Regions from separate parts of the Homo sapiens genome. Here region 2 is linked to region 1. Evidence: fine-mapped expression QTL. Tissue or cell type: whole blood. Region 1 holds a variant in brackets; the other region holds the start of a gene. All regions are shown on one strand. Distances are from middle to middle.

Evidence for each region.
Region 2: ARHGAP21 starts here. The variant in region 1 is fine-mapped to the expression of ARHGAP21 in whole blood (INTERVAL, PIP above 0.99).

What each region holds. Positions count from the first base shown.
Region 1 is chr10:24,818,879-24,821,779 of GRCh38, forward strand. No RefSeq gene overlaps it. Among named protein-coding and RNA genes, the nearest start is that of ARHGAP21, 96 kb to the left of the region's middle. The variant GAAAGAAGA/G (reference allele first, on the strand shown) is at 1,300.
Region 2 is chr10:24,722,511-24,725,411 of GRCh38, forward strand. It overlaps ARHGAP21 (Rho GTPase activating protein 21), which reads right to left and starts at 1,377. Exons shown (of 26, transcript NM_020824.4): 1 at 1,052-1,377. RefSeq lists silencers at 157-466, 527-886, 907-986, 1,077-1,146, 1,177-1,366 and 1 more and an enhancer at 910-1,820.

The sequences.
Region 1 (2,901 bases):
GTGGAAATGATTTACCAAGTTATTCTGGCTTCCAGATTAAAAACTGGAACTTCTGGCTGGGTGTTGTAGCTTGCACCCATAATCTTGTCCTCTTTGGGAGGCCAAGGTAGGAGGATCGCTTGAGCTCAGGAGGTTGAGACCAGCCTGGGCAACACAGTGAGACCTTGTCTCTACTAAAAAAAAATTAGCTGGGGATTGTGGCACATGCCTGTTGTCCCAGCTACTGGAGAGGCTGAAGTGGGAGAATTGCTTGAACCCTGGAGGTGGAGATTGCAGTAAGTCATGATTATGCCACTGCATTCCAGTGACAGAGTGAGACCCTGTCTCAGAAAAAAAATCCCCAAAAACAAAAAACAAAAACCCAAAAGCAAAAACTGAAACTTTTTTTTTCTTTTCTTTTCTTTAAAGTAGAGATGGGATTTTTGCCCCAGCTGGTCTCCAACTCCTGCTCAGGCAATCCTCCTACCTTGGCATCCCAAAGTGTGGGGATTACAGGTGTGAGCCACCGTGGCTGGCAATAAAACTGGAACTTCTTTTAAAAATTTTTATTGTAATCAGATCAGAAAATGGTTGCCAAAATAATCTGTACTTAAAAAAAATAAGTTCTGTTCAAATTAGAGCAGCTCCACAACTATTTTAACCATAGATTTGATAAAGGTAACTTTAAAAACTAAAATTTTGTACCCTGATTAAAAAAAAAAAACAAGGTTCTGACAAATATTACCTGGCCATAGAAACATGTAACTATTTCTTAAAGTATGCTGTGAAGTAGCAAGGACTGAGATGAAAGAGAAGGTATCCAGAGATGAATGATTAAAAAAAGTAAGCACTAAATATTTACATGTAACTATGTATTTATATATTTTATCTGTGTGTTGATTAATACTATTTGGTAAGAACTGCACATATAGTGTCTCATTTAATTCTCAAAACAACACTATGAGGTAGGTATTATCTCTGTTTAATGGAAGTTCAGAGAGGTTAAACCACTTGTCCATGGTTGAAAGTTAGTCAATTTCCAGGCTGGGCAACATGATGAGACCCCGTCTCTACCAAAAATAAAAAAAATTAGCTGGGCATAAGTGGCATGTGCCTGTGTCCCAAGCTACTCAGAGGCTGAGATGGGTGGATTGCTGGAGCCCTGGAGGCTGAGGTGGGTGGATTACTGGAACCCTGGAGGCTGAGTTTGCAGTGAGTCGAGATCACACCACTACACTCCAGTCTGATCATGTTGCTGCACTCCCCCATTAAGAAAGAAAGAAAGAAAGAAAGAAAGAAAGAAAGAAAGAAAGAAAGAAA[GAAAGAAGA/G]AAGAAAGAAAGAAAGAAGGAAAGAAAGAAAGAAGGAAAAGAAAGAAGAAAGAAATAAAGAAAGATGAAAGGGAGAGAGAGAGGGAGGGAAGGAACGAAGGAAGGAAAAGAAAGAGAGAAAAAGAGAAAGAAAATTGGAAATCTCAAACACAGACCTGACTATCTGCAAAGCCTATGCTCTTAACCTCCTCCTTCCAGTATTATACCAGGAGAGCTAGCAGCAGTGGGTTAGCTTAGTGCTTGCATTTTAAGTTTGAGTTCCAGAGAGGTAAAATGATGTGTTGATAACATAGACAGTAAGAGGTTGGATGAAACTGCAAGGTGATTTCTAGTAAATTTGCTCCCATTTGTTTCTAAGGAACATAAAGGAAATTTCTTTCTCTGTTAGCTTTTATAGTTTAGGAAGTAAATGTACATACAGTAGGAGTCATTCTGAGGTTGCTGGGGGTTAGAAGAAAATGCCTTTGTTTGAGACAGACAAGCTAGAGGGAGGTAGATGGGATATCACCTTGGAGCTGAAAGGGTGACCTGCCCCAATTAGTCACGACTGTCAAGCTTGGGCTTGAGCAGCAGTGGATCATGGAGACAGGGCACAAAGCCAGAAGCAGACTGGAAATGCCAAGGGCCTATGGCTGTGGTGTCAGCTCAGGTCCCGAAGTCAAGTGAGCAGGCAGGAGTGTCCATGGGCCAAGGCAAAATGGATGGAAACCAGCCAGCCAGTCAGGATGCCCTGAGGCACCAGCCCCTGCTCCCAGCAGGCCCAGGCTGGAGGCCTTGTATATTTCGGCTGCTCCAACAGTAGCCTGTCCTGGGGTCTGTATAGGGGAGCCCTAGACAAGAGCTGGGTAACAGGGGTGAGTGTTCAAGGTCAGGGTAGATTGCTTGTGAGCAAGCTCGTGCCAGCACCTCCATGGGTACTTTGGGAAATATCACACTTGAAAGATGGCTGGTTTGTTTATTGCCATAAATGATGCAAGAATCTGTGTAATTTTTAAAAACATGCCTCATTATATATCTAGTATCTAGTTGGTGATCAGGATCATCATTTTAGCTGGGTGCTTATAGTCCCAGCTACTCAAGAGGCTGAGGCGGGAGGATTGCTTGAGACCAGGGAGTTCGAGACTGTGATTGTGCTTGTGAATAGCTACTACACTCAAGCCTGGGCAACATAACAAGACCCATCTCTTAAAAAAATCATCATTCAATTTAAGTCTGGAGTCATGTTTGAGATACTTCTTGATTTTTAAAGGGCTAATATCTAGGATACTAAAGGGTCATACTAAATAGACATGCACTGTACTGTAAAGGGCCACTGCCTAGTATATCTTAAATAATAAATATTTGTCAAATGAATGAATGAAACTGAATTGACACAAACAGAAAGTCTAGGCCGGGTGAGATGCCTCATGATTATAATCCTAGCACTTTGGGAGGCCGAGGTGGGAGGATCACTTGCGGCCAGGAGTTTGAGACTAGCCTGGGCAACATAGTGAGACCCTGTCTCTACAAAAAATTAAAAAATTAGCCAGTGTGGTGGCTTGGGCCCAGCTACTCGAGAGGCTGAAGTGGGAAGATGGCTTGAGCCCATGAGTTC
Region 2 (2,901 bases), 96 kb before region 1:
AAAATGTTCCCCATTCAAGTGCATTTTAATTCATGTCTTTCCTGGGTAGAGCAGAGGGCTGTGCATGTTGTTTTCTGCATCACCCAGACAGGGACACTTCGGTGAAGTTTTCTCCCCCACGAGGCTGAAATGGGATCACACTTTCCAAGCCCCCTCTTCGCTCCCCTCCGCCCCCCAAAAACGCAAGCACAAAGCCAGCCTGGCTGGGGCCGGCGTGGGCTCGGCGGCGTCTCCGGGTGACTCGGGCGCCGCCCCTCCGCCCCTCCGCCCCGGCCGGCGTCCCCGAGGAGGCGGCTGTTTTCCTTGGCCCGCGGCGGGGCTGGGTGGGGACGGCCGGGGAGGCGTGCGCGGCCGCGGGTGGGACGCCGGCGCCGCTCCCGCTCCAGGGCATGATTCTGGAGCTACACCCGAGCAACTCTGAAGTCGCGGCTTTTCCCCCAACTACCACTCGACACGGCTTCCCTTCCCCTGTGGCCACCTAGGGGGAAAAAACGAGAAAAAGCAAACCACCACCCACCTCCCCACGATTCCCCCGCCCCTTCCTGAGGCGGGTCGGGGACCTCGAGCTCCCGAGGAGAGCGGCCCCAATATGGACTTTCTCAAAGGTGCTAGGAGCCCCGGGGCGAGACAAAACCGGGGGCCTTACCCTTCCCGCCCGCTCGGGCCCGGCGGCCGAAGCGCGGCGGCGAGCTGAAGCGGAGACGCTGGCCGGGCGCCGGGCCCGGCCGGGACGCGCTAGGCCGCAGGCTCGGTTAATATTCATGAGCGGCCCCAGGCGCCCCTCCTCCAAGGCTGGCCGGCCGGACCCCAGCGCCCACCGCCGGCCTTTGTGCCCTTCCCTCCGCCCCGCCGCCCGCCCTTGCTCCGCACACGCGGGCGCGGCCCCTCCGCCCCCGCCGGGCGCCCGCCGCGGGCTCCCTCCGGCCCCGAGCCAGCGCCCGGCCGGGTGGCCTGTGGCGGGAAGGGAGAGAGCCCGCGGCAAGCCGGGCACTCCACGGCCCGCGAGCGCAGCGCCCTCTCGGCTGAGACGGAAAAGAAACCAGACACGCACCAGAGGAAGCGGGACGAGTGGATCCGCACGGGGCTGGCCGGCTCCGGGACAGCGCGCCCCGCCCGCCCGCCCGGCGTGAGCCGGACCCCGCAGCCGGACGATCCCGCGCTGCCCGCCGCCGCCGCCGCCGCCGCCGCCGCGCTCCGAGGCCGCCGCCCCCGGCCGGCCGCTCCCAGGCACCGCCGCGACCTGCCCCGGCCGGCCCCGGGCTCTCGGCCGCCGCAGGAGGGCGTGGGGCGGGGCGGCGGCCGCCGGACTCTCCCCTCGCCTCGCCGGGCCGGGCCGGGGCCCAGCTCCGGCGCCCGCGAACGCCAAGTGACAGAAGCGCCTCGCTCCGTGGCCGCGCGGAGCTGTTTCCCGGGGGCGGATTTCTCGCTTCTTCCTCCCTGGATCCACCTCCTCCCACTCCACCTCCTTCCCCTCCCCTCCCCAGGGGAGGCTCTGGGGCTGAATATTTTCTGTCTTGAATAACACGGGACCGGGGAACCGACGCTGGAGAAGGGGGATTAGCCGGAGGCCGGAGCGGGGTGCTCGCCTGCCCCCTCCCCGTGGGTCGCGGGACCTACAAGCCCTCGCCCCCCAGCACCCCAAAACCAGGCACACAACGCTCCCCGCCCCTGCAGTCTCCCAAGCGCTGAACGGCAGCGTCCAGGGATGGGCTTGCTCCCGGGAAAGGAGACCTGGTGGTAGACGTCTGGGGTGGAGAGGGGGACAAGCCTATAACAGCGACATCTGCAGACTCCAGGGATCAAAGGTCCTAGATTGGGGGACAGGGCTTGGCAAATTGTGCCCCCACCCCTTTTTTGCAGCGGGAAGGCAATGAAGCTGCGACGAGACGTGGGACTTCCAGATAAGGGAGTGTCCCCTCACGCCTCACAGCAAAAATCTCTTCCTGTGGTGGGAAGGGGGAAGTTAGCCAAGCGTTGCTCATTCAGTTCTTTCCCTTTTATAAATTCTGCAGAGCGGCTGAGCGAATTTGGCGCGGCTAGCGGAACTGTGGAGAGGCGGCTGCGCTTCTCTGTCCGCCACACTCCAGGTCACAGCGGCTCCGGAGCCGCGGCACAACCGCCACCCTCCCCACCCAATTCCCGGGCCTTGTCACAGACCCCGGCAGCTCGCTCCGCCCCGCCGTGCCTCACAACATCTCCCGCTGCAAATTACCCAATCGGGAGACGCGACGAGAGAACGCGAACCAATCAGGGGCTGGTAAATCAGGCTTCCCTCCGCCCTCTTCCCCGCCCCCGGGTGAAGGCCACCGCCCCCTCGGCCTCTCCTTCCCACCCCGCCCCGCTCCGGGGAGGTGGCTCCCCGGCTCCGAGCCTCGCGGGGCTGGAGGGGGAGTTGCTCGCAGTCAGAGGCAGCGTTTGTCACCTTGTCACCCTCATCCTCGCCCCCTCCCATACACACTCCCCTCCCCTTCTCGGTGCTCCTGCTGGTGCTGTTGAGGGTCATTTTTATCCTCACTGCGGCCGGGGACTGCCAGCTATTGTGTCTGATCAGCTGCCACCGCTGTCCAGAGGGAAAAAAAGAAGAACAAAACCTAGAAACTGTGGAGTCCTCTTACCTTTTCCTTCTTTCTTTCTACACTCTCCCCTGTAGACTTAGAAACATCCCTTCTCCTTCCCCGCCCGCCCACCACCTGAGGTCCTGTTTCTTTATGGGGGACAGGGGAGCGGGGACAAAAAACACTCCCTGCAGCTGGAGTACCTGCGCCTTAGTTTTTACATCTTCCTTAAAGTGGAAGGTGCCAAACCAAATCTACAACTAAATCCTCCGCTTCAATTCGAGGGAAGACGTTGACGAGATCATTTTTATATGGCCATGAAATTTGCGTGTTCTTGACAGCCTGT